Linked DNA regions of Homo sapiens. The protein of the gene in region 1 interacts with the protein of each later gene in a biochemical or structural test. Each region holds a gene or a part of one and is shown in the gene's direction. Other genes may lie near its edges.

Region 1 (7,027 bases):
AAAAAATACAGAAATTGGCTGGGCATGGTGATGCGCATCTGTAGTCCCAGTTACTCAGGAGGCTGAGTTGGGAGGATCGCTTGAGCCTGAGAGGCAGAGGTTGCAGTGAGCTAAGATTGTGCCACTGCACTCCAACCAGAGTGACAGCGAGACCCTATCTCAAAAAAAAAAAAAAAAAGATAAGTTTCAATTAGCTAATTAATTCCAAACTCTTAGTAATATGGCTCTTAGCATAATTATTATGGTGTGTTCTAGAGAAGCCCCTTTTGAAATCCTCATCTAGCTTTCCCCTGCCTTCTCAGGGGAAAATTGAAGTTATATGAAGTCCTGTCTGTCATGGAGACCAGGCACCCTACTCCTCAGTGCCTCACCATATCTCCTTTCCTACCCTACCTTTGGTTGATCCATTCATGCATCACTGGCTTCGTGGCCTTGACTGTATCTCTTGGCTTCTTCCTTTTGGGCTTTGGCTTCTGCTACTGCCTAATTATTTCTCCATCTTCCAAGTTAGGCAACCAAGAGAGGGAACCTGATTGGCCTAGATTATTTTTGCTTATTCTAGACCACTAAATAGATGTGTTCAACCAGCAATATGGTCCAGTCATCAGTGTCTGGGGGGTAGGGTGGATGGGGACATAGGGCGATGTTTGGAAGGAGTCTAAGGGTACGTATAATGTGGACGGTACCATCAGCTGGTATCACGAACAAGAGGTAGGACCATGTGTGTGATAAACAACATAATATCCATAGCTGTCATAAAGCAAAATGTTGTTATTCTTATTTCGTTCTTCCAGAAACCATTGATCATCAAGCTGCCTTCCAGTTATGGCTCTCTTATTGTATAGCCCCCCTCCTAAATCAGTCCATAACAGGTAGTGCGATAAGTGTTTAGAGAAGGAGCTTTTGCCTGTTCTCTAGGTGAGAGGTAGAGATCTCAAAGTATGTGGCAACAGAGGATAGAATTGTGGATTAGTTGGAAGGTGTTATCAGAGGTCATTTGATAGACCCTCAACTCTGAATATAGCACCCAAACCATGCCTTTCAAATAAACAACAGTCTATCCTCTTATACTTTAATCTGTTCCTGTGTAAGCAATTCTCAAGGCTAGTTCTTCATGACGTTTGAGCCACTTTTTTTTCCCTGATGGGTTTCATAGTATCCATCCTATAATGGTCAGCATGCTATTTGATTTTAGTGTGTCCTTTTTTCTTGCATGATGCTTCTTTTGCTATTTTTCTTCTTGGCTTTTCATCTTTAGGTTTGTTGAGGTCCTTAAATCCTGATTGTCAATGTCCTAGGATCCCAGAGACAAAATGGACTTATGTTTTTTTTTTTTTTTTTTTTTTTGGTCACATAACTGGAGGGACTGAGCTTGTGTTTGCTTTCTGTTAGAAGAACTGGTGCATCTAAGACAGTCAGCTGCAGAATTTGGTTTGGCTAGTTAAGACGTCCATGGAGATGGAATATCATGCAGTCCAGGTAGAAAGATATTAACGGGCCTATGAAGACAGGTTGCCTACCCAAGGCTTCTCAAACTTGAGAAATCACCTGGGCATCTTGTTAAAATGCAGATTTTAATTCAGTAGGTTTGGGGTGTGGCCTAACATCTGGAAACCTGCATTTCAAAGAAGCTCCCAGGAGATGTTGTTGCTGCAGGTCTGCAGACACACTTGGAGGAGTAAGAACTAGGGGGTTTAATATTCCCAAACAGGTGAGCAGAAGTGGCCTATATCGCTCCCCGTCGATGCCAGAGAACTTGAACAGGCCAAGACTGAAGCAGGTGGAAAAATTCAAGGACAACACAATACCAGATAAAGTTAAAAAAAAGTATTTTTCTGGCCAAGGAAAGCTCAGGAAGGTAAGAACTTTTTAAGATGAAAATCTTGTTCATCTTCTATCTCATGTCTTTGCTTTTCTGGTATGAGGATTGTTTTATTATGCCTTTTTTGTCTTCTTCCTCTTTACTTTTACTTTTTCCTCTTTGTTCTTTCCATCTTTCTGTCTTTTCTACATCTGTATCCACGTGAAATATATATATATATATAAAATATTTATATAACATAGATACATAAAGTATATCTATATTGTACTTTTAGAAATGTTGTCATAGGCCGGGTGCAGTGGCTCACGCCTATAATCCTAGCACTTTGGGAGGCCGAGGCGGGCGGATTGCCTGAGCTCAGGAGTTCAAGACCAGACTGGGCAACACGGTGAAACCCCGTCTCTACTAAAATACAAGAAATCAGCTGGGCGTGGCAGCATGTGCCTGTAGTCCCGGCTACTCAGGAGGCTGAGGCAGGAGAATCGCTTGAACCCGGGAGGTGGAGGTTGCAGTGAGCCAAGATTGTGCCACTGCACTCCAGCCTGGGCAACAGAGCAAGACTCCGTCTCAAAAAAAAAAAAAAAAAGAGAAATGTTGTCATCATACCGTCTTCCCAACCCTTTTTCTTAAGATCTGAAAGAATACAAGGGAACTTTGGTATGGATATTTTACTGCTGTTTTACATGCAGTCTGACAGAAACAACATCATATAGCAGGTTGGTTTTGTGGAAAGCAACTTCTGAAAAACTTAGCCTTTGTCCTTTACCCTCCCCAACTTTAAAAAAATTAAATAGATGGGAGGATCACTTAAGGTCAGAAGTTCAAGACCAGCCTGGTCAATATAGCATGACCCCATCTCTAATAAAAAAAAATAAAATAAAAAATTAAAATTCTAAAATCTTTGGATATTTTATAAAATCAACTTATTTATTTATTTATTTATTTTCCCCTGAGATGGGGTCTCACTCTGTCACCCAGGCTGGATTGCAGTGGCATGGTCTTGACTCACTGCAGCCTCAATATTTATTTATTATTAAAAATAATAAATAAACAAATGGAGTCTCACTCTGTCTCCCAGACTGGAGTGCAGTGGTGCAATCGTAGCTCACTATAGCCTTGGCCTCCTGGGCTCAAGTGATCTCCCTACCTCAGCCTCCCATGTAGCTAGGATTACAGATGTGCGCCACCATGGCCCACTCCATCCACTGGTTTTTAAACCTTTAACATGAGGATTGGGTGTGGGGTGGGAATCTTGTCATCTTCAGGGCTTATGTTTAAAGAAGACAGTCTCTCTGTGTGACATTACTATCACTCAGATGCTGGAGGAAGATTCTAACCAGGGGCACCTGATTGGTGATTTTTCCAAGGTGAGTTTGGCTACACCCATCCTGTATTTCAGTGAGTCATTTTGGATCTGAATCTTCTCTGTTTGCCGAGAATGCCTGGTGTAAATATGCATCCTCACCAAGTACTCTTTGGTAACCTGACAGTGCTCTAGTGGTAGATCCAGGCCCTAAGCCTTTCCAGAGAGAAAGTATTTCTTATTCTTCTGGGAAGATCCAGAACAGGGGAAAGTATGAGACTTTTTACCTTTTTTCTGTTTAAAAACATATTTTAAAATTATGTAAATAATACTTGGTTGTTACAGAAAAAGTAGAAAATGAAGAAATTTATCCCAAACTTTATTAACCAGGGTAATATTGCTTAGTATATACTCTTTTTTTCCCCCCTACTGTCTGTGTAATTGCAGAAGGTACATATTCTTACAGATTTTTTTCTGTGTTTTCACAAACACATATACAAATACAGTTTTTGCTTTTCTACAAAAACAGTTTATATTGTTTTGTTATCTGTTGTTTTTCCTCTCATTTAATAATTATATCAGGGGCATCTTTTTTCATATTAATAAGCAGTTATGCTTCATTCTTTCTTTTTTTAAGATTCAAGGTCTTGATCTGTTGCCCAGGCTGGAGTACATTGGCATGATCATAGCTCACTTCAGCCTCGAGCTCCTGGCCTCAAGAAATCCTCTCTCTCCTTGGCTTCCCAAAGCACTGAGGTTACAGGCATGAGCCACCATGCCCAGCCCATTTCATTTTAATAGCTCCATATTATTTCTTTTTTTTTTTTTTTTGGCTGCTCATAATTTCTTCATAAATCCCTTCTTGTAAGATATTTGGTTTTACAATTTTTTCTTATGAATGATACCAAGATGAATATATTTGTAGAGAAATCTAAAACTTCGTACACATCCTTGATTTGTTCTTTAGGATCAGTTCTTAGAAATGGACTTGATGTATATGCACTTTATAGAGACACTGATTTTTTTGAAGGCCTCTGGGGTTTTAAGGGTCACTTGGAAAGAAGGACAAAATAAGGGTCTTTGATCTCAAACTTGGGTGTGGAATACTTGCTGTTATTTCAGCTCTTGTGTATTTCTAGGTATGTGCGCTGCCAACCGTGTCAGGGAAACACCAAGATCTGAAGTATGTCAACCCAGAAACAGTAAGCAGATTTCTGGAGATGGTAACTGGTTACATAAGCTACCATCTGGTCTCTTCTGTCCCTAAAATGCCCATTTCCATTTGTATTTCTTTCACTGTGTTCACTCACACAGGCTCCTTATTCAACTGAAGTTATATTGAAGGACTCATTTTTTTCCCCATTCTTCTCTCTCCTTCGTTTTTAGTTAAACAAATGATACATAGTTTTTGTAAAAGGGAAAAAGGGAGGGGTCAGGCATGGTGGCTCACGCCTGAAATCCTAGCATTTTGGGAGGCTGAGGCAGGCAGATCTCAGGCACTTGAGGCAGGGAATTCGAGACCACCCTGGCCAACATGGCGAAACCCCATCTCTAATAAAAATACAAAAAAATTAACCAGGCGTGGTAATGTGTGCCTATAATCCCAGCTACTTGGGAGGCTGAAGCACAAGAATTGCTTGAACCCCAGTTGGGGAGGTTGCAGTGAGCAGAGATCGTGCCACTGTACTCCAGCCTGGGCGACACAGCGAGACTGTCTCAAAAAATAATAATTACTTAAGAAAAAAGGGAGAAAGAAAGGAAAATAAAAAATCACACACAAGAAATGGTCTCAATTAAGGTCTCAATTAGGGTGACCATGCACCCTCGTTTACATTTTACAATCCCATTTTCATCTATTAGTGAGGGTAATTATTAATAGTGTTTGCTTTCATTCTCAAAAGTCTCCCAGTTTGTACAAAAATTATTTGGTCACCATACCCACAATCTCATCACCAGAGATAACCACTAGTCATATTTTCCTATGGCCTTCCAGATTTTATTTTATTTTTAGACATGGAGTTTCGCTCTTGTTGCCCAGGCTGGAGTGCAATGGCACAATCTCGGCTTGCTGCAACCTCTGCCTCCCGGAGGTCATTCTCCTGCCTCAGCCTCCCAAGTAGCTGGGATTACAGGTGCCAGCCATCACACCGACTAATTTTTGTATTTTTAGTAGAGACGGGGTTTTACTATGTTGGTCAGGCTGGTTTCAAACTCCTGTCCTCTGGTGATCCACCCTCCTCAGCCTCCCAAAGTGCTGGGATTACAGGTGTGAGCCACTGCGCCCAGCCCCAGATTTTATTCTAGCATATGTTTTATAGAAATGGGATCATGGGCCTAGCACAGCTCACACCTGTAATCCCAGCACTTTGAGAGGCCAAGGCAGGCGAATCACCTGAGGTTGGGAGTTCGAGACGAGTCTGACCAACATGGAGAAACCCCGTCTCTACTAAAAATATAAAATTAGCTGGGTGTGGTAGCGCATGCCTGTAATCCCAGCTACTCGGGAGGCTGAGGCAGGAGAATTGCTTGAACCCGGGAGGCAGAGGTTGCGGTGAGCCAAGATGGCACCATTGTACTCCAGCCTGGGCAACAAGGGCGAAATTCCATCTCAAAAAACAAAAAAAAAGGATCATGATGAACGTATAGTATTGCAATTTGCTTAGTGAGACATTATAGACATCTTTCTATATCAATAAGGTATCTATATTATCATTTTAATGGCTATATAATGCCGCTCTATTCTACTGACATGTACAATTTATTTTACCAAACCCCTATTATTGAATATTGAAGTTATTTCTAATATATTGATAATATAAAACAATGCTGAGATGAATATAATTGTGCCTACATCTTTGTGTACTTTTCCTGTTTACTTAAGATGTTAGAAATTGCTGAGTCAAAGTGTGATTACATTTATTTGTATATGTATTTACAAAGTTCCCTTCAGAAAGGCTGAACCAATTTGCACTCCTACAAGTAGCTTCAGTTTCTTCCTTCCTTTAGGTATCAACCTTTCCCTTCCATATCCTTTCCTGAAAGACTTACTTTCTTCCTTTTTGATGGTGGGTAGGGAACCATTTTGCATTTCTTCCTGCAATTTCAAGCTCTCTAGCTGCTGCCTCTGCCACTGCAGAAGTCCTTGGGCATCTCCTGAGTCCAGCCATGCCTATCCCCAGATGGGTAGCCTGAATATGGTTTTCCTTGGTATCTTGTCAGTGCCAGCTATTTTGGTTCTCTAAAAGGGCCACTTCCTGTTTCATTCTCTTTTGTGGAGTGGGGCTGAATCATTGCCACATATCAAATATGGGGTGACTTTGGAGGCTGGACATACAGTGGACAGAACAGGAGTATGCTTGTAAGGAACTGTGTCATTGACCCTTCTCTCCCTCAGAGTGGCAGTGAGCAGAATATTCAGTCATTGTTTCTGTCCAGGTGGCTGCCTTACTGTCGGGGAAGTTCCAGGGTCTGATTGAGAAGTTTTATGTCATTGATTGTCGCTATCCATATGAGTATCTGGGAGGACACATCCAGGTGAGACGACATTGTGGCCATTAGTAGGGGAGGGCTGGAGATAACTCTTTATTGAGAAGAGTCTGTGGACAAAGGGGTCTATGAACTCTAGAGTCAGGACAAAGATTACATATTTGAAGCACCTCAAGGCTGAGGTCCTCATTGTTTTAATTCTGTATACCTTAAGCAGGTTACTTTCCCTTTCCCTCCTAGATCTATCTCCCTCTTTTCTGTAGGAGCCAAGGGGTCCTACCTAGAAATAAAAACATTAATCCAAGGACTGAAGCACTTTGCAAACACTTACTATTCATGAACATTCCTCGCAGTGATCTCTATACTTCCAGTGGTTCAGGTCTATAAACATTTATTGACCATCTACAAGCTCTATG
Region 2 (7,027 bases), on another chromosome or scaffold:
TATATTGCCCAGAGAACAAGAAATCGCTTTCTCAGATCTTTTGCTATTTGCATGGGATAGAGCTAACAGTGTGATAGGTTTCTGGGACCTCAACTTTACCTAAAGATAAAAATTGTCTTTGTCTTAAATCTTTCTCAACACAGCTTGTCCATTCCCATTGATGGATTGGAATTCTTTTTAGATGACTGAGGTAGGCTGCAGCAGTTTGGGAAACTTTAATTACGTGCCATAATTGGTAAAATCTGTTTGGCAAATGGGAGTAGTGTACAAATTGGTGCTACATTTGTATAAAAATTAGGGAATTTGTTAATAGGTATTTCCAAGCTCTCCAGAAATTCCGATTCGGTACTTCTGGAGTACAGCTCAGGGAATTTTTTTTTTTTTTTTTTTTTGGAGACAGTCTTGCTCTGTTGCCCAGGCTGGAGTGCAATGGCATGATCTCGGCTCACTGCAGCCTCCGCCTCCCAAGTAGCTGGGATTACAGGCACCCACCACCATGCCCAGCTAATTTTTGTACTTGAAGTAGAGACGGGGTTTCACCATGTTGGCCAGGCTGGTCTTGAACTCCTGACCTCAGGTGATCTGCCTGCCTTGGCTTCCCAAAGTGCTGGGATTACAGGAGTGAGCCACCTCGCCTGGCTGTTGTTGTTTTTAAATTAAGTTCTTTAGTGATCTGTCTTACATGGGTAAGGCACAAAGAGGAGTGAGTTAAATATCTGTGCAGTCATCATTTTGTCCTTGGTATTTGAGTGGAAACTAGTGGGGAATTCCTACATATGTACTTGTGCAGGACATGGTTATGCACATCATACTTGCTATTTCCTGGTTCTAGATATCAGCATTAGGTAAAGTAGTGCCCTGTAAGGCAGTAACTTCTGTATCTGGTTGTGTACCTCCTTCTGTCACCAATCTTGCATACCCATGATAAGGAGCCGGGTTATTAAATCCAACTTGGTTTCAAATCGTTTTGGAGCATGTAGAGCTGTTTCTATTCATGTTGGTTCTGCTTGTGTAATAACAACATTTTAATTCCTTCTCCCTCAGCTAAGTGACATAAATGGAAGTATATTCTATCACTGGAAATCTCGATACTGATAGTGCCCATTCAGTTTCTCATCTTCCTTAATTTACACACTAGTAAATGGGATAAGATGTAATTGGAATTGTAATTGGCTTATTTTTTGGCACATCACTCTTAACACCAACCCTTTAAAAAAAAATTAGACAATAATGGCTGGGCGCAGTGGCTCATGCCTGTCATCCCAGCACTTTGAGAGGCCGAGGTGGGTGGATCACCTGAGGTCAGGAGTTCGAGACCAGCCTGGCCAACATGGCGAAACCCTGTCTCTACTAAAAATACAAAAATTAGCTGGCTGTGGCGGTGGATACCTGTAGTCTCAGCTACTCTGGAGGCTTAGGCAGGAGAATTGCTTGAACCTGGGAGGCGGAGATTGTGGTGAGCCAAGATTGCGCATTGCACTCCAGCCTGGGTGACAGAGTGACACTCCATTTCTTAAAAAAAAAAAAAAAAAAAAAATTAGATAATTTGTATAGGCATGGTTAAGCCCTCGGGCATGAGAAAAAAGCTAACAGTACCTTGGCCTTTTTCCCTTTCATAGCACAACGATAACTAATACTAAGTTTCACTGTTGGTGATCTTTTTTGAAATCTGGATATTGGGGCACAATTGGGAGCTAGTTTCTCTTTTCTGATAATTGAATATTACTATTAAGGTTACCTCTAGTTTAAACAGAAAACTTTTAGTACTCAGGAGGTGGACATCCGTAGTTTCTAAATCACCTCAAGTAATATGGAGTCTTCAGAAAGCAATCTAAAGGAAAAAGGTAAAGGTAGAATGGGATTCAGTGCACTCCACATATGTACTAGGAGACTATGTAGTGTGGTGTGAAGGCACCCTGGACTTGGGTTAATAATACCCATTCAGCCCCTGATATTTTGGACAATTCACCTTGTTTTTCCCCCTCATTCCCTCGTGTCTTTGACATACCGTTTTTGTCCATTCTAGCTCTGCTAGTCCTCGAGAGCAAAGCCTTTCATTTAACATCAATCAGAACTGTTTGTAGTTGGGTAGAGCTGATGGGGGTGGGGGCCAGGGATGATGATATACCGTATAAGAAGGAAAGGGGGAGTTCATTATTGGTGCTAGCTGCAAAGCAGGATACTAAGTGATCCGACCCAGTCAGCAGAGCTGGCCTGAATATCTGGCAGCTATTCTTTGTCCCGTGTTCATGCCAGAACAGTTAACTGTTTGCCTTTGAGTGGACTACTGATTCTTAGTGAGTTCATTGACTGAATTAGCTGATCACGGTAATAATTAGCTCTAGGTCAATTGTGGCTTCATCTTTTATCATACCTGTGCCTTTACTCTTTACATAAATGGTGGCGTGGTTACCATGTCAAGCGAGACATGTTTAATGACAAGTGGATCTTGTTTTGACATCTGGCTAGATTTTGGTATCTGTCAGTGATAGAACAGTTCTTTGATTCTTGGGCAAACAGAACAAATCCTTTCAGATTGGAAGTTATATAAAGATTAGTTCATAGGTGTTATTAACATCAGCAACGTTGTTTTTGTATTTAGTGATGTTGTTACTTGACCAAGGCCTTTCTATGTAAGTCACCCCGAATGCTGAGTTGTTAGTGATTAGAAGGAAAAAGTTTTGTTTCAGCCCACGTCTCATGAGTAAGATCTCCTTGGATCAGATTAGACAGTGATCTACTGTGAATAAGACCCACCTGAATGCCCCAGAACTAGCTTCATTCTAGTGTCCATGTCTGTCTACAAAACGAGGGTGTGAACATCCTTTCCTTATAACAGCAACAATGAGCCTGGAAGATGAGTTTTGTCCCCATCTCTCTCCTTTGCCATTTACTGCTACCTCCTCTTGTAACTTCTGGTTTCCCACCTCGTGTTGAAGGTTGAAGTGAGGTGGGATGACTGGTTTTGTTTCTAGGTTCTAGGGCAGTGTTGATTATGCTGATGTTGCTACTGAGGCTGGTTTTTTCTGACAGCCTTTCCTACTTCTCCGTATTATAGATAAGAATTCTGAGGCCAGGCACAGTGGCTCACGCCTGTCATCCCAGTACTTTGGTAGGCCGAGGTGGGTGGATCACCTGAGGTCAGGAGTTTGAGACTGTCCTGGCCAACATGGTGAAACCCCATCTCTACTAAAAATACAAAAACTAGCCGGGCATGGTGGCAGGCACCTGTAATCCCAGCTACTTGCTGGGGGGAGCTAAGGCAGGAGAATCGCTTGAACCCAGAAGGCGGAGGTTGCAGTGAGCCGAGATCGCGCCATCATGCTCCAGCCTGGGGGACACGAGCGAGACTTTGTCTCAAAAAAAAAAAGAATTCTGAGACAGCTGCCTGGGCACAGTGGCTCACACCTGTAATCCTAGCACTTTGGGAGGCCAGGAATTTGAGACCAGCCTGGGCAACATAGGGAGACCCCCATCTCTACTAAAAACCCAAAAAAGTTAGCTGGGTGTGATGGCATGTGCCTGTAGTCTAAGCTACTCAGGGAGGCCTGGGAGGTCAAGGCTGCAGTATCGTTGTGCCATTGCACTATCGTTTTGCTACTACACTCCACCCTGGACAACTGACTGAGGCCTTGTATTTTCCTTTTTTTTTTTTTGAGCCTGGGCAATATGGTGATGCCCTGTCTCAACAAAAGATAGCTGGGCATGTCAGCATATCCACCCCTGTAGTTCAGTTACTCAGGAGCCTGAGGCGGGAGGATAGATTGCACCGTAGAGATTGAGGCTACAGTGAGCTGTGATCGTGCCACTGCACTCCAGTCCGGGCAACATAGTGAGACCCTGTCTTAAGAAAGAAAGAAAAAAAAGAATTCAGAGACACTAATATAAGTATGGTGGTGGGCAAAATGTGGTCAAATAGTGTTAGAAATTTGTATCTTTTGTCTTTTTTTTTGGTGCAGGTTTTGCAGACATTGGGTACAGAAACTTACCGGCCTAGTTCTGCCTCACAGTGTGTGGCTGGTATTGCTTGTGCAGAGATCCCAGTAAACCAGTGGCCAGAACTCATTCCTCAGCTGGTGGCCAATGTCACAAACCCCAACAGCACAGAGCACATGAAGGAGTCGACATTGGAAGCCATCGGTTATATTTGCCAAGATATAGTAAGTGCTTGCCTAATGTATCTGGTTTATATACCTCTGATTGCCTCTAGCTGTGACATCAATGATATTAGTACTACCTTATTGAATCACGAAGAAAGCCAAGCTAAATTGCACAGTTTTGAAAGTGAGACTGATTTATTTCCCTTAGGCCTGTGTCTTCACATTGCTAATCATGCCCTAAAGTAAAGAAACTTGAGGATCGCAAACTGAAAACAGAAGTCTATGTTTGAAGAGTCTTAGATTCTAGACTTACAAAATGAGGATATTCTCATTTGGATTATCCCTGACCCAGTCTTTTTTCTTAAGATCCCGAATGTACCATGAATGTTGTGGCGCATTTTCATTTACAACATTACGGAAAGTTTTGCCAACATTTGATGTAGTTGGTTTAGCCACTGGAGACACAGTATTTTAGATGTAGCCCCCCCAGCACTGTTGTTCCTGATGAGGTTACCACTCTTGGTGTGTATTTTAATATATAGACTTTATGAAGCAAAGGAGCCCACAGCACTTGACCCAGACTTAGACTCCCTAGATGTGCCTAGGTGTCGATCCTTGGCCTTGGCCCTTAAATGCCCTGAAGCTTTACTTTAGAGTACAGATGGCCTGGAAAATACGAACAGACTGCCATCTCCATTTGCACAGAAGTGGGGAGGAAAGCGAATATTACCTCATACCCAGAGTCATTATGCTAAGAAGTCAAAGATGAAGTTGATGAGTTTGACTTGGTTTTGTTCAGTTCTGGATTGCCAGTACCATGAGACATTTTGCAGGTGGTTTGCAGTGTTATTCCCAAATGGAAACGGGTGGGGAAAGATCACCAATTCATGATACTTTCTTGAGTGAACTTTACAGTTAAAAGGACTGCCAATTAAGCCAGGCACAGTGGCTTACACCTGTAGTCCCAGCTGCTTGGGAAGCTGAGGTGGGAGGATCACTTGAACCCAGGAATTTGAGGGTTCAGTGCATTGTGGTAGTGCCTGTGAATAGCCACTGCACTTTAGTCTGGGCAATACAGACCCTGTCTCTTAAGAACAGAAGAAGGACTGCTTCTGTCGTGAAGCTCCTTATGGCAGTCTTTTGGAGGGGATTGATTCCAGCACCCTCCTCAGGTACCAAAATCCTCAGATGTTCAAGTCTGTTACATAAAATGGTGTAGTATTTGCATATAACCTATGCACATCCTCCCATATACTTTAAATCATCTCTAGAATACTTACAATACCTAATTCAATGTAAATGCTATATTAATAGTTGGTATACTGTATTAAGGGAATGATGACAAGAAAAAAAGGTGTACATGCACCTTTTGGTGCAGTACAGATGCAACCATCCATTTTTTTTCCTCTAAATATTTTCAATCCATAGTTGTTTGAATCCACAGATGTGGAACCCATGGCTGCAGAGGGCTGACTGTATATTCATTGCACTTCTCTGCTTGTTACAGGACCCAGAGCAGCTACAAGATAAATCCAATGAGATTCTGACTGCCATAATCCAGGGGATGAGGAAAGAAGAGCCTAGTAATAATGTGAAGCTAGCTGCTACGAATGCACTCCTGAACTCATTGGAGTTCACCAAAGCAAACTTTGATAAAGAGGTAAGTTTTTTGACAATAAGGTATAGATTCAGACAGTAAGGGATGAAAGAGTTGAATGAAAGTTTTTTGTTTTGTTTTCTTAAGTTTATGGTTTAGAAAGTACCACCTACTTAAAAGTATTTGTTTCCAGTTTAGTCGAGTTCGTATTGTGTGAGATATCCCCATGGAGTGTTTGCCGTTTCTCATCATGCTTTTGGAAATAAAGTGTTTCTAAGCTTAGGTTTTTCCTTTTGCAGTCCAAAGTGTGGAATGTTGTTGGGTTTTTTTAAATTATAGGGCATGGTGGTGCATACTGGTACTCCAGCTACTTCAGAGGCTAAGGCGGGAGGATTGCTTGAGTCCAGTTATTCAAGGCCAGCCTGGGCAACAAAGTCAGATATCGTCCCTTAAAAAAAAGAAAGGAATAGGCTGGGCGATGTGGCTTAAGCCTGTAATCCCAGCACTTTGGGAGGCTGAGGCGGGTGGATCATCAGGTCAGGAGTTTGAGACCAGCCTGACGAACATGGTGAAACCCCATCTCTACTAAAAATACAAAAAAATTAGCCGGGTGTGGTGGCGTGCGCCTGTAATCCCAGCTACTCAGGAGGCTGAGGCAGGAGAATCACTTGAACCTGGGAGGCAGAGGTTGCAGTGAGCCGAGATTGCAGCACTGTATTCCAGCCTGGGCGACAGAGCAAGACTGTCTCAAAAAAAATAAAAAATAAAAAAAATAAAAGAAAGAAATTATGGTATGTACTATATATGTTGGTTTACTTTGGTTTCTTTTAAGATTGTGTGAATCTTTTGCCTTGTACTAAAGATTTTGTGGAGGCCGGGTGCTGGGGCTCACATCCAGTAATCCCAACACTTTGGGCCACCAAGGCAAGAGGATCACTTGAAGCCAGGAGTTTGAGACTAGCCTGTGCAACGTAACAAAACCCTGTCTCTAAAAAAATTTCTGTGGAGAAGAACAACTGAGTTGTTAACCAGTTTTGTGAGCTCTTGTGTTTACAGGGCTTATAATGGAAAAAAAATAATGAAAAATGAAATAAATAAAAATTATAGCAATTGGTCTGTTTCATACCACCTTAGGAAGGTGTTTTTAAGAAACAGGATATATAGCCAGGTGCTTTGGCACATGCCTGTAATCCCAGCTACTTGGGAAGCTGAGGTGGGAGGATCACTTGAGCCTGGGAGTTCAAGGCTCAAGATTTCACCACTGTACTTCAGCCTGGGCAACAGTGCAAGACTCTGTCTCCAAAAAAAAAAAATATATATATATGTATAT
Region 3 (7,027 bases), on another chromosome or scaffold:
GTCTAACTCTTGTTTTATTATCAGAGATGATTGGGGCACTTCTTTCTTTGTAAGATACCCTTAATATTTTGGGGAACCAGGTTGGCATCACAGAGGGCCCTTCCCAGCAGCTTTGTTTCTACTTCAGCTATATTCAGGTCGTCTTTTGATTTATCTTTATTAAAGGGATGACTGTTCTCTGAATGAGATAGTTCTCTCTTACCTGTTTTCCCTTCCTCTTTTTATTTACATGTTCAAGTAGAAAGGGATTACAGCCATTTATGTATTCAATTCCTAAAACTTTCTTTTCAAATCAGAAAGATTCTCAATTGCTTTTCAAAGCAGACCTTTCCTCCTGACTCCACATGCAATAATTAAGAAGCGGAAGGCTGGGTGTGGTGGCGTGCACCTGCAACCTCAGCACTTTGGAAGGCTGAGATGGGAGGATCAGTTGAGCCCAGGAGTTTGAGACCATCCTGGGCAACACAGCAATACTGCAGCTCTACAAAAAAATTTAAAAATTAGGGCATGATAGCACATGCCTGTAGTCCCAGCTACTTGGGAAGCTGAGGCAGGAGGGTTGCTTGAGTCAGGAGTTAGAGGCCATAGTGAGCTGTGATTGTGCCAGTGACCTCCAGCCTAGGCAACAGAGCAGAGACTGTGTCTCTAAAAAAATTTTTTTAATAAATAAAGAAGGTGAACTTGCCCAAGCAACCAGATTTTTTTTTTTTTAAGACAGGATCTTAACTCTGTCACCCCAGCTGGAGTGCAGTGGCACGATCTTAGCTCACTGGAACCTCCACCTCCTGGGCTCAAGCTTCCTGGGCTCCATCTCCCTGCTCAAGCGATCCTGTTACCTCAGTCTCCCAAGTAGCTGGGACCACAGGCATGCGTCACCACACCTGGCTAATTTTTTGTATTTTTGGAGACAAGTTTTCACCATGTTACCCAGGCTGGTCTCAAAGTCCTGGGCTCAAGCGATCTGCCCACCTTGGCCTCCCAAAGTGCTGGGATTACAGGCGTGAGTCACCGTGCCTGGGCAACCAGAACTTTTTATAAACTTGTGTGTGTATGTGTAAACATAAATATACATACATACTTTTACTGTTGGACTGTATTAAAACAGGAGTTTTAAAGAGGTGGTTAAGATAGACAGCAGACTTTGCTTCTGAAGGTGATAGTGGGATAGCAGATAATGTTTCTTGAACTGTCACTTGGAACCAAGTACTGTGTTAAGAAAGTACTAGGTTTGTTATCTCTAATCTTCACTCCAACCCTGTGAGGTAGGACTGTTATATTAAGTTTATATTAACTTTTTTGTTACCACCGTTACTTTGTTAGCAAGGTTTAATATTGATATCCTTTGATGTACTAAGAGCACCTACTGAAGTCAGCACTGTCAAAAGACTGCTGGTCCAAGACTTGCTTTGGGAATACCAACCCCTCTACCAATTTAGCTGTTTGAGAAGGCTGTCTCAGGGCTACTTCTTACATATCTTGGCCTCAGTTTTTAAACTTCTCATCCTGTGATCAGAAAGCTAATGAAAGAGAATTTGATTGATGAGCATTCTCGTTCACTTGAAATGCAACTGTGAGAGATAGCAGGAATAAAGAAGGTGATGATCATAACTAGGGAAGTTAGGATGGCAGTAAGGGAGAAGTTCTATCAAAGACAGTTAGAAACACTGAAGTTAGTGGACTTTGTCAGTTAACACTCGTTCCTTAGCAGGACCAAGATTCTTTCTTTGAGAGCAGTAACATTATTGAACAAAGTCATTCTGAAAACCCTTGTTTTTTCAGGCAAGAAACTATATTCAGTCTTTGACTCAGATGCCGAAGATGAACTTTGCGAATGTATTTATTGGTGCCAATCCCCTGGGTAAGTTGACCATATATCCTCACCTCATGGATATTGAATTGGTTATGATATAAATTGGGGATTTGAAGAAGAGTTTCTCCTTTTGACCAAATAAAGTACCATTAGTTGAATCTTGGAAGGTGATAAATACGGCTTTTATTATCTATTTGTGTTGTCAGATTTTTTTTTAATCACATGAGATGATTGTATGTTTAAATGATCACAGAACTTGGGATTGGGGGAATGGGCAGGTACAGTGGAGAAAGGAGAGAAAGTAATGGGAATGTTGAGAGAAAAGATTGGTGAGGCAGGAAGAAGCAGATACAGAAGAAAGCTGTAACTTGCTCACAACTGCTGTGGATTTATGGTGTCTCTGAGTGGAGGACAGAAACCACTGAAGTGCAGGTGGGTGTTTAGAGGAGCCACCCAGGAGCTCCCTGCAGGGTGCTCTGCTCTAACGGTAGCTGCCGTTGCTACAGATCCTGTCGTCTTCCACACTCATGAACTTTTCCCCTCTCCTCTTCTTTCTCTGCCCTCAGAGGCATAACCGTCCTCTCCTGTTTGTGGAGCTTATTTGCTACCTAAACTTAAAGGAATGGCTTCCTATGCCTTCAAGATCCTTGGCAGAGGGAAGTGATGGTGGCAGCTGAAGATATGTGTTGCCTTGGCTAAAAAAGGAGTTGCTTTATTATTATTATTTATTTATTTATTTATTTATTTATTTTGGTAGTGTCAGGGTCTCGCTCTTTTACCCAGGCTAGAGTACAGTGGCACAATCATAGCTCACTGCAAGCTTGAACTCCTGGGCTCCAGTGATCCTCCTGCCTCAGCCTTCCAAATAGCTAGGACTACAGGCATGCATCCCCAAGCCTGGCTAATTTTTTAAAGAATTCTTTGTAGAGACAGGGTCTCACCATCTTACTAATCGTGGACTCCTGGACTCATGCAGTCTGCCCACTTCAACTTCCAAAAGTGCTGGGATTCAGACGTGAGACACTGTGCCTGGCGGACTATATTCTTTGAAGGGGAGGAGTGATGTGTGCTTCAGATGGCCCCTGAAAGCTGCTTTGCCTGAGGCTCATTCCCTGACTCTTGAAGAGGACAGTGGACAGTGCTGTTTAATGGTGGACACAGAAGGATCAGACCAGGACCTCCCTACAATAGGGAAGGGAGCTATGCTATGGTAACGAGTATAATCTGCCTTCTCACTTTTCTTAAGATTGTATTGTGTGGTGTGTTTTAAAATCTCACTGCATTTCTTTGCATCTGTTTGGGTCATCTGTCTTCTTAAGGGTCTTGGCAGCTATGCTTCAGGTTTAGTTTTATCTTTTTGAGGGCTGACAGCCATGCTGACCTCTTTAGAAGCTGGGGTGAAGGCTAGGTGATTTTACCTTTTTAAGTACTTCATCCATAGTGATTATGGAGAGGAATTTTAGTGTCGCTGTGATAATTCTTATAATAGCAGAGATACTCACGCTCTTTGAAGTTTTGGGCAGTTGTGGATGAGTTCGTGTCAGCCTTGGAGACAGAGAGTATGTCATATCTCAGCTGGGTCGCTCTCCTGCCCTAGGATGAATCCACAGTCTCATCAGGGGTGGGTACGATTCTACTGAGACTGGCTTAGGTTTGCATCTGCCCTGGCATGCTCTCATTGGCTTTGTGTGATTTATTTGAGCTGTATTATCTAGTTCAAGGGTCTGTGAGAAGCTCTCTTTGAGCCTTAAGTACTACAGGATGTTGGGAAAAGATGTTGTGTTCTTTCTTTCCTTTTTTTTTTGAGACAGAGTCTCGCTCTGTCGTCCAGGTTGGAGTGCAGTGGTGCGATCTCGGCTCATTGCAAGCTCCACCTCCCGGCTTTAAGTGATTCTTCTGCCTCAGCCTCCTGAGTAGCTGGGAATACAAGTGTGTGCCACCACACCTGGCTAATTTTTTGTATCTTTAGTAAAGACGGGGTTTCACCGTGTTAGCCAGGATGGTCTCGATCTCCTGACCTCGTGACCTGCCCGCCTCGGCCTCCCAAAGTGCTGGGATTACAGGCATGAGCCACTGCACCCAGCCCGTCGTGTTCTTTCTTGTCGTCATTCTGTTCTGAAGTTGTTTCATTTTATAAGCCTTAAGTTTTGAACAGGGCAGTACTCACTGACACCCTCTTAACAGACTCAGAAAGATGTGTTAATTCATTTTTTAGGGGGAGAGGGGAGATATTTGTGTTCCAGCAGCTTATTTAGGTCACATACCTCCTGATAGGTCTTCCCATTCTTTGAAATCATGACATTGAAACCTCCAAAAGAACTAGATACCACTTTGCTAATGAGTTGAAAGGAGGCTTTGGTCCATCTGGTGCTCAGCACTGTACTTCTCAGCATTTAAACGTGCCTTACAGCCCATTGCCAAACAGTGATGTCATATAATGAGGCTCCCCTTGCTGGGCAGATGGAGCACAGTGTTACTATCACAAGCTCGTGCCCAGCATATTAACTGAGCAGGAACATGCCAGAAATATAAATATTAACAGCTCTGTTTTGTCAGCCACTGACTTTGTTTCACTGCTATTCCCAAAACATGAATTAAAACTTAAATTACCCCTTGATGTTAGTGTATGTATTTATCTGTCAAGATTTTTTTTTTTTAAGAGATGGCATCTCACTCTGTCACCCAGGTTAGAGTACAGTGGCACAGTCACGGTTCATGATAACCTCGAACTCTTGTGTTTAAGTGATCCTTCCTCTTCCCTATCCCAAGTAGCTGAGACAACAGGCACATAATGCCATGCCCAGCTAATAAGATCTTTGAGGAATTTGTTCTTGCCCCTGACCTTATTGGTTATAAGAACATGGTCCTTTTTACCCTAAGGGTAACAGAGACTTGTCGTATAATCTGTGTTCAATTATAAAATCAACAGCTGATAAGGTTTCTTTTTCTAAGAAGAGAAGACCATCAGAAGAATATATATATATATAATCCAGGCATTCACCTAGTACTGTAAAGTGTAAACTTATGAACTTGAATTGACACATGAATATTTACTTTGTTTCTGTATCCCCTTGAAGCCCATATTTCTCCAGTGGATTACTCTGGAATTCAAGCTGTAGGACGGGTGTTTTACAGCCTCCAATATACACAGCAGTAGATCTCTATAGGAAGCTGTCCTCTTCACTACTCACCCCCACACCCTCCACATTTAAGGAGTAATTTGCAAAGTCTCAAAAGCCTTTTTCACCACAGTGATAACTGGTTATATGGCAGTATTTATTCTCCCAAGTGCCACCATGCTGAAACACAAAAATACTCATTTGAAATATAGAGTTAGACAAATTACCATTTTGTAACCCCTTATGAAATAATTGCTTTTGGGAAGGAAACCCAGTGAATGCAGAAAGCCATAAGTGAAAAGAATGGATATTTACTTGGTACCAAAATATCCCGCAGATTACTTGCTTTGGTCAAAGGGGAAACATCTTAACCCAGTGATCAATTTTAGCTCATTAGTAGTGGGACAGATGGCCTTAATGCACTGTCACGTGCACAGCATCACCTGTATTTTTGCTGAAAATGTTTAACCTGATTCTTACCAAAATTTTTGACCTAACTTCCGGTTTTTGGGAAGTACAGGGGATAGTGGAAAGCAGGGTATAGACACATGACAGCAAAAGAAGCAAAATCAGACACATCCCGAGAAACGGTCATTCTCAGGACAATCAGAGGGTCTCTTTAGATCAAAATCAGGAAAGAACAGGGCTTAGAAGTAAGAAGATTATTCTAGACTAAGAGAGACTAAAGAAAACCAGTCAGTTGCAGTGCATGGCCCCTAATTGAATCCTGGTTTCAACAAACTAGTTCTAAAAGACAACGTTGGAATAATTGGAGAAATCTTAACATGAACTGGATTTTAGATGATATTTAGAAATTATTTGTCAGAGATAATAACAGTATTATGATTATATAGGAAGATGTCTTCGTGTTGAAATATTTGGGGAGGGTAAAGTGTCATGTCTATAATTTTATTTTAAAACAGTTCAGAAAAAAATACATATAAATACAGAAATATAAAAATGTTAATTGTTGAATATGCTAGGCATATGAGTGTTCACTTTATCATAGTTTTTACTTTTCTGTTTCTGTATATTTGAAATTTTTCATAGTGAAATTTTTAAAAATAAAATTCCCTTTGATTTTAATACCATGTCTCACCCTCATCACCATGTAAAACCCCCAGTTTATTCACTGTTTGAAGATCTGTTGATGAATATTTGATGTTAGTAAATAAACAGCTTAGGGGGACAAAAAAAAAACAGCCCTGCCTACCTATTGTAGGTTACTTCAGCTGTAGGCTTTGTTTTATACAGTTTGACTACACTGGTAGCAGTTTGACATTGACGGTCCACAAAAGCCTGTTCAAACAGAATCCCAGTCATTTAAAAAAATTCTTCTTTAGTAACATATTCTTTAAAAATACAAAATACAGGAGGAGGGTGAGGGTTGAGAGATAACCTATCGGGTACAATGTTCACTATTTGGTTAATGGGCACGCTAGAAGCCCAGTCCCCATCAGTCCGTGGTGAGACCCATGTAACAAATGTGCACATGTACCCCCAAATCAAAAATAAAATAAAAAAATTTTAAAACATAGAAAATACAGATACACACACACACACACACACACATACACACATAAAGGAGAAGAGGGCTAATATATCCTAGAGTAGGTATTTTGGAGGAGAGTTCTTTGTTTGGATATGAAGGGTCAAAACTATGTTTGCTCAATAAGGCATACTTTTTTGTAACATGTTAAAAACTCTTTTCCTTCCTGTCTATGGTACTGATAGCTGTCGACTTGCTGGAGAAGATGCTTGTATTGGACTCAGATAAGAGAATTACAGCGGCCCAAGCCCTTGCACATGCCTACTTTGCTCAGTACCACGATCCTGATGATGAACCAGTGGCCGATCCTTATGATCAGTCCTTTGAAAGCAGGGACCTCCTTATAGATGAGTGGAAAAGTAAGTCCTAAGGGTAGGATTAACATCTTGAACCACTAACCAAAAGCGGTGGGAAAAATAAAAACTGAATGGTCATAACCAACTTGCTAAAGCTTGTAGATGAGGTCTCTAATGCAGAATGAATATGTTCTCTGGTGGAAACTGTTGTAGACAGTGATACTCTCTGGACCTTTGAGATACTTATGTCTGG
Region 4 (7,027 bases), on another chromosome or scaffold:
AAAAAAAAAAAAAAAAGAAAAAGATAATAGACATGCCCCTTTCTGCCAGGATTTTCTTTCTTTTTCTTTTTTTTTTTTCTTTTTTTTTTTTTTTGAGATGGAGCTTCACTCTTGTTGCCCAGGCTGGAGTGCAGTGGCGTGATCTCGGCTCACTGCAACCTCTGCCTCCTGGGTTCAAGGGATTCTCCTGCCTCAGCCTCCCGAGTAACTGGGATTACAGGCATGTGCAACCACGCCTGGGTAATTTTTTATTTTTAGTAGACATGGGGTTTCACCATGTTGGTCAGGCTGGTCTCAAACTTCTGACCTCAGGTGATCCACCTGCCTCAGCCTCCGAAAGTGTTGAGATTACAGGCATGAGCCACTGTGCCTGGCCGTTTTTATTTTCTCTTCTCTTCTCTTCTCTCTTTTCGACCGAGTCTTGCTGTGTCACGCAGGCTGGAGCGCAGTAGCACGATCTTGGCTCACTACAACCTCTGCCTCCTGGGTTCAAGTGATTCTCCTTCCTCAGCCTCCCGAGTAGCTGGCATTACAGGCGCGTGCCACCACGCCCAGCTAATTTTTTGTATTTTTAGTAGAGACGGGGTTTCGCTATGATGGCCAGGCTGGTCTTGAACTCCTGGCCTCAAGTGATCGCCTGCCTCAACCTCCTAAAGTGCCGGGATTACAGGCATGAGCAACCTTGTCTGGCTACTGCCAGCATTTTCTGACTGGGCCCTCTCTCCCATTTCAGGTGAAGTCAGCACTGTGCTTAAGCTGGATAACACAGTGGTGGGGCAGACGTCTTGGAAGCCATGTGGCCCCAATGCCTGGGACCAGAGCTTCACTCTGGAGCTGGAAAGGGTGAGCTGCGTTGGAGGACAGCAGGGCCTAGAGGAGGAGGGGTTCCATGCCTCTGGCACCCTGAGTGATGGCCCTCTTCCTCTCCCTCCAGGCACGGGAACTGGAGTTGGCTGTGTTCTGGCGGGACCAGCGGGGCCTGTGTGCCCTCAAATTCCTGAAGTTGGAGGATTTCTTGGACAATGAGAGGCATGAGGTGCAGCTGGACATGGAACCCCAGGGCTGCCTGGTGGCTGAGGTATAGCCCACACCTGACCCTGAGAAAATGCTTCTTCTCCCTCACTGCCCCATTCCCAGTTTCCTAGAAGGGGAAAATATGTTTTAGGTCTGGCTCTTCCAGAAGGGGAAGATAAGTTTTAAGTCAGGCTTTTCTAGAAGAGGAAAATAGATTTTAGATCCAGCTCTTCTAGAAACGGAAGATATGTTTTAACTCTGCCTTTTCTAGAAGGAGAAGATACGTTTTAGGTCAGGCTCTTCCAGAAGGGGAAGAGACGTTTTAGGTCTGCTTTTTTCTAGAAGGGAAAGATATGTTTTAGATCAGGCTCTTCTAGAAAGGGAAGATAGGCTTTTGATCTGCCTGTTCTAGGCTGGGCGTGGTGGCTCATGCCTGTAATCCCAGCACTTCGGAAGGCTGAGGCAGGAGGATCACCTGAGGTCAGGGAGACCAGCCTGGGCAACATGGTAAAACCGCGTCTCAACTAAAAGTACAAAATTAGCTGGGCGTCGTGGCACATGCCTTTAGTCCCAGCTACTTGGGAGGCTGAGACAGGAGAATCGCTTGAACCCAGGAGGCGGAGGCTGCAGTGAGCTGAGATCCCACCACTGCACTCCAGCCTGGGCGACAGAGTGAGACTCTGTCGCCCAGGAGTCTCACAAAAAAAAAAAAGATCTGCTTGTTCTAGAAGGGGAAGATACATTTTAGATCAGGCTCTTTTAGAAGCATAAGATATGTTTTAGATATGGTTTCTCTTAATACAGAAAGATAGTTTTAGATCAGGCTCTTTCAGAAGTGGCAGGTATGTTTTAGACCCGTGTATTCTAGAAGGGGAAGATACATTTTAGATCTGTCTCTGAACCTTGATAGAAAAGTACACCTTGGCCAGGTGTGGTGGCTCACGCCTGTAATCCCAGCACTTTGGGAGGCTGAGGCAGGTGGATCACTTGAGGCCAGGAGTTCCAGACTAGCCTGGCCAACATGGTGAAACCCCATCTCTATTAAAAATACAAAAATTAGCTGGGCATGATAGTGGGTACCTGTAATCCCAGCTACTTGGGAGGCTGAGGCAGGAGAATTGCTTGAACCCAGGAGACAGAGGTTGCAGTGAGCTGAGATCACGCCATTGCACTCCAGCCTGGGCAACAGAGTGAGACTCTTGTCTCAAAAAAAAAAAAAAAAGAAGAAGAAGAAGAAGAAAAGCACTTCTAATTAGCCACATCAGTGATAGGACCTTAGCTGGGATTGGTTTTGTTCTGAGGCAAGATACTTAAAAAAAAAAAAAAAGAAGAAGAAGAAGCTGATTTCCAAATTTAGAAATGTTTAAAGAAAAAAGGAAATAAATTATAAAATTTCTTCCAACCAGGAAAGAGATACAAAACCTGGCAACATATCGTGGTGATTGCTACCAGAGCCACAGTCAAGAGAAAGTGATTCCTTCCACAGCTGTGTGAGGGTGAAGGTCTGAATTGAGGTGGCCTACCCTTGGCACTGTTGACATCTGGGGCCACATCATCCTCTGTGGTGGGGCTGTCCTGCATACTAGAGGATGTAGCACCTCTCCCCACTGCTTACAGGATGTCAGTAGCACCACCTCCCCCTGAGTTTTGACAGCCCAGAGGTCTCCAGACACTGTCAAGTGCTCCCTGGCCGGGAACCCCTGGTCTAAATGACATTTCTAGCTGAGTTCTCATAGTATAAGCCAGGCTCTGTAGCGAGTACTTTGGCGACGTGAACTCATTAATTCTCACAACCAACCAACAAAAGAGGGACTGTTATTACTCAAATTTGACAGAGGAGGAAACTGGGGCACAGAGAAGGGGCACTTGACCCCTCATTTAGCCAAATTATCCTAAAAAACTCTTTTAATCTTCCGCTAACCTATATGTGTACCCCATTTTACATATATATATGATAGATTACCTATATATGTATACACACACATATTATCTATTATTTACCCACCTACGTGTCCATCCATCCATTTTGTCTGTCTATGCATTCATCCATCCATCTTTTTTTTTTTTTTTTTTTTTTGAGATGGAGTCTCGCTGTCTCCCAGGCTGGAGTGCAGTGGTGCGATCTTGGCTCACTGCAACCTCTGCTTCCCGGGTTCATGCCATTCTCCTGCCTCAGCCTCCCGAGTAGCTGGGACTACAGGCACCCGCTACCACGCCCGGATAATTTTTTGTATTTTTAGTAGAGACGGGGTTTCACCCACCGTGTTAGCCAGGATGGTCTCCATCTCCTGACCTCGTGATCTGCCCGCCTTGGCCTCCCAAAGTGCTGGGATTACCGGCGTGAGCCACCGCGCCCGGCCCAGCCATCTTATCAATGCATCCTCTATCCATTGATAGATACACCTATATTATCTGTCTTATCTATGTATCCATCTATATTAGGTATCTATATCATCTATTTATCTAATCCATCTATCCATTTATCTATCTCTATCTATATATTATCTATCAACCAATCTATTTTTCCATGCATCCGTCTCTATTATCTGTCAGTCATCTTATCCATCAATCTTATGTATGCATCATCCATCCATCTATCCATCCCTGTATATTTCTCTGTATATATATCTACCCATTCCTCTCTCTATCTCTATCTATCCCTCTCTATATCTATCTGTGCCTCTGTTTTTCTCTATATAGCTATATCTATCTATCCATCCATCTATATTATCTATCAACTAATCTATCTTTCCGTCTACCCATCTGTCTATATTATCTATCCATCTATATTATCTATCTATCATCTTATCCATCCATCCATTTATCTTATCTATGCTCATCCCTCCATCCATCCATCTCTGTATATTCCTCTATCTCTATTTATATCCACCCATTCCTGTCTCTGTCTCTATCTATCCCTCTCTGTATCTATCTGTGTCTCTCTCTCTTTTTCTCTCGATAGCTGTATCTATCTATCCATCCATCTATCCATGCATCCTTCTCTTTCTATGAATCCCTTTCTCTATCAGTCCCTCTCTCTTTCTCTATCTGTAACTACCCTTCCGTCCATGCCCCTCTCTATCTACCTGCGTCTATATCTGTCTCTTTCTGTGTCTATTTATCCATCTCTCTATATCCATATCCCTAAGCAGAGGTTCTCCCCTGGTCTGACCATCAAGCACCAGTGAAAGAAAGGGGCGGGGCCAGGCACAGTGGCTCACACCTGTAATCCCAGCACTTTGGGAGGCTGAGGCGGGCAGATCACTAAGTCAGGAGTTCGAGACTAGCCTGGTCAACATGGTGAAACCCCGTCTCTACTGAAAATAGAAAAATTAGCCGGGTGTGGTAGCAGGCGCCTGTAATCCCAGCTACGCGGGAGGCTGAGGCAGGAGAATCAGTTGAACCTGGGAGATGAAGGTTGCAGTGAGCCGAGATCGCATCATTGCACTCCAGCCTGGGCAACAACAGCGAAACTCTGTCTCAAAAAAAAAAAAAAGAAAGAAAGAAAGGGGCGTGGAGAAGAGCTGACTCCAGATGGCAGAGGTTTAAAATTGTTCTCCCATTCAGAACACAGCCCAAACCAAATGGAAAGTGATGGTGGGTGGCCTGGGGGACACATTCTAAAGCGTTTCTCCTTGCCTTCAAGGTCTCTCTGTGGCATTCTATTTTGTTTTTATGCCTATACAGAAGCATTCTTCCATAGAACTTTTCTGCAGCTCTGGCCGGGCGCTGTGGCTCACGCCTGTAATCCCAATACTTCGGGAGGCTGAGGCGGATGGATCATTTGAGGTCAGGAGTTTGAGACCAGCCTGGCCAACATGGTGAAACCCTGTCTTTACTAAAAATACAAAAATTCGGCTGGGTGCGGTGGCTCACGCCTGTCATCCCAGCACTTTGGGAGGGTAGGCAGGCAGATCACCTGAGGTCAGGAGTTCAAGACCAGCCTGGCCAACGTGGAAAAACCTAGTCTCTACTAAAAATACAAAAATCAGCCAGGTGTGGTGGCGCACGCCTGTAATCCCAGTTACTTGGGAGGCTGAGGCAGGAGAATCACTTGAACCTGGGAGGCGGAGGTTGTAGTGAGCCAAGATCGCACCACTGTACTCCAGCCTGGGCAACAGAGTGAGACTGTGTCTCAAAAAAAAAAAAAAAGAAATTAGCCGGGCTTGGTGGTGGGTGCCTGTAATCCCAGCTGCTCGGGAGACTGAGGCAGGAGAATCTCTAGAGCCTGGGAGGTGGAGGTTGTGGTGAGCCCAGATTGCGCCACTGCACTCCAGCCTGGGCAACAGAGTCTCAAAGAAAAAAGGAACTTTCTGCAGCTCTGTTGTCGATGCACCCACAGTAGCTGAGTTCTGTTGTAGATGGAAATGTTCTCTATCTGAAGTGTGACCAGTGTGACCAGGGAACCAAAGTTTTAATTTCGCTGACATTTTCACTAATTTAAATCGCCACATGTGACAACCATACCAGACACTGCAGTTCTGTGACTTCAGCACCTTCTAGAAGTTGTATTGGAGTTGGGAGAATTCAACTTGACAGGTGGCTTCCATAGATGGGTGGGCACCAGCATTGCCTGGGGGCTTGTTGAAATACTGAGTGCTTTAGGGCCGGGCACGGTGGCTCGCGCCTGTAATCCCAGCACTTTGGGAGGCCAAAGTGGGCAGATCGCTTGAGCCCAGGAGTTCAGGACCAGCCTGGCCAACATGGTGAAACTCCGTCTCTACAAAAATACAACAATTTGCCAGGCATGGGGGTGCGTGCCTGTAGTCCCAGCTACTCAGGAGGCTGAGGTGGGAGGATCTCTTGAGCCCGGGAGGTGGAGGCTGCAGTGAGCCGAGATCGGACTACTCATATGTGCATATATATATGTGTGTATATATATATATGTGTGTGTGTATATATATATATATATAGAGAGAGAGAGAGAGCATGCGCGCGCTTCCTCCACTCCATGTTTCTGGCTCAGTAGGTCAAACCTGCGTTTCTAGAAAGTTCCCAGGTGTTGCTGCTACTGCAGGTCTGGGGTCTGGGAGCACATGTGGGGAATGGGGTGTGGGATGGCGTGGCGTCCGTTTGCAGTCGCTGTCTGTCAGTCTTGTTGGGTCAGATGCTCTCCCCACCTCTAGAAAGGGACCCGGTTGTTTGCTTCTTGCTTTTCCAAGACGTCCCTTCAGGAGGGGAGCCATGGGTTGCACCGATGACCTCTTCATTGTCACCTGGTACTCGGGTTGAATCTGATGCCACGTGACCAGAACCCCACTTGGGCGCGCACACCTGTGCTCCCAGGGGCTTCCTTACCAAGCTGTCTGCCTGCAGGTGGGCAGAGGGTCCTCACATTTTGGTCCCTTCCCCCAGGTCACCTTCCGCAACCCTGTCATTGAGAGGATTCCTCGGCTCCGACGGCAGAAGAAAATTTTCTCCAAGCAGCAAGGTGAGAGGGTGCTCCAGGCTTCCTGGGGGAGAGGCCAGGGGTCCTGGGAGTGTCATGGAGGGTGACGCCTGCCCCGTCCCCCCAGGGAAGGCGTTCCAGCGTGCTAGGCAGATGAACATCGATGTCGCCACGTGGGTGCGGCTGCTCCGGAGGCTCATCCCCAATGCCACGGGCACAGGCACCTTTAGCCCTGGGGCTTCTCCAGGATCCGAGGCCCGGACCACGGGGTAAGGAAGGAGGGCCCCATGGTCCCGGCTGCCCCTTGAAGCCTGCGAGGGTCCTGGGTCCCAGACACACCCTCCTCTCGTCTGCTGCAGTGACATATCGGTGGAGAAGCTGAACCTCGGCACTGACTCGGACAGCTCACCTCAGAAGAGCTCGCGGGATCCTCCTTCCAGCCCATCGAGCCTGGTGAGGGTCCCCCCTTCTATCCCCGTAGGCCTGGCCTGGGCAGCGTCAGGGGTCCTGCTCCAGGCTCAGAGACCACTAGGAACTTCCCTGGAGCCACGCAGCATGTCTGTGGCAGAACCAGGGCCCAGATCTCTATGCTGGTTAAAACGTGTGCCCAGATCCCCATCCTGG

What was found.
Region 2: the proteins of CDC25C (region 1) and KPNB1 form a complex in vitro, tested with the Homo sapiens proteins (one study listed by BioGRID).
Region 3: the proteins of CDC25C (region 1) and MAPK14 form a complex in vitro, tested with the Homo sapiens proteins (one study listed by BioGRID).
Region 4: the proteins of CDC25C (region 1) and PKN1 form a complex in vitro, tested with the Homo sapiens proteins (one study listed by BioGRID).

What each region holds. Positions count from the first base shown.
Region 1 is NC_000005.10:138,286,801-138,293,827, reverse strand, and holds part of CDC25C (M-phase inducer phosphatase 3), read left to right. Parts: intron 1-1,711; coding exon 1,712-1,858; intron 1,859-3,087; coding exon 3,088-3,189; intron 3,190-4,264; coding exon 4,265-4,327; intron 4,328-6,560; coding exon 6,561-6,659; intron 6,660-7,027. UniProt on the Homo sapiens protein: Functions as a dosage-dependent inducer in mitotic control. Tyrosine protein phosphatase required for progression of the cell cycle. When phosphorylated, highly effective in activating G2 cells into prophase.
Region 2 is NC_000017.11:47,652,901-47,659,927, forward strand, and holds part of KPNB1 (importin subunit beta-1), read left to right. Parts: intron 1-3,959; coding exon 3,960-4,160; intron 4,161-5,607; coding exon 5,608-5,760; intron 5,761-7,027.
Region 3 is NC_000006.12:36,100,792-36,107,818, forward strand, and holds part of MAPK14 (mitogen-activated protein kinase 14), read left to right. Parts: intron 1-1,779; coding exon 1,780-1,858; coding exon of another isoform or gene 1,859-1,911; exon of another isoform or gene 1,912-1,973; intron 1,974-6,663; coding exon 6,664-6,837; intron 6,838-7,027. UniProt on the Homo sapiens protein: Serine/threonine kinase which acts as an essential component of the MAP kinase signal transduction pathway.
Region 4 is NC_000019.10:14,457,298-14,464,324, forward strand, and holds part of PKN1 (serine/threonine-protein kinase N1), read left to right. Parts: intron 1-733; coding exon 734-843; intron 844-934; coding exon 935-1,078; intron 1,079-6,369; coding exon 6,370-6,445; intron 6,446-6,530; coding exon 6,531-6,672; intron 6,673-6,762; coding exon 6,763-6,856; intron 6,857-7,027. UniProt on the Homo sapiens protein: PKC-related serine/threonine-protein kinase involved in various processes such as regulation of the intermediate filaments of the actin cytoskeleton, cell migration, tumor cell invasion and transcription regulation.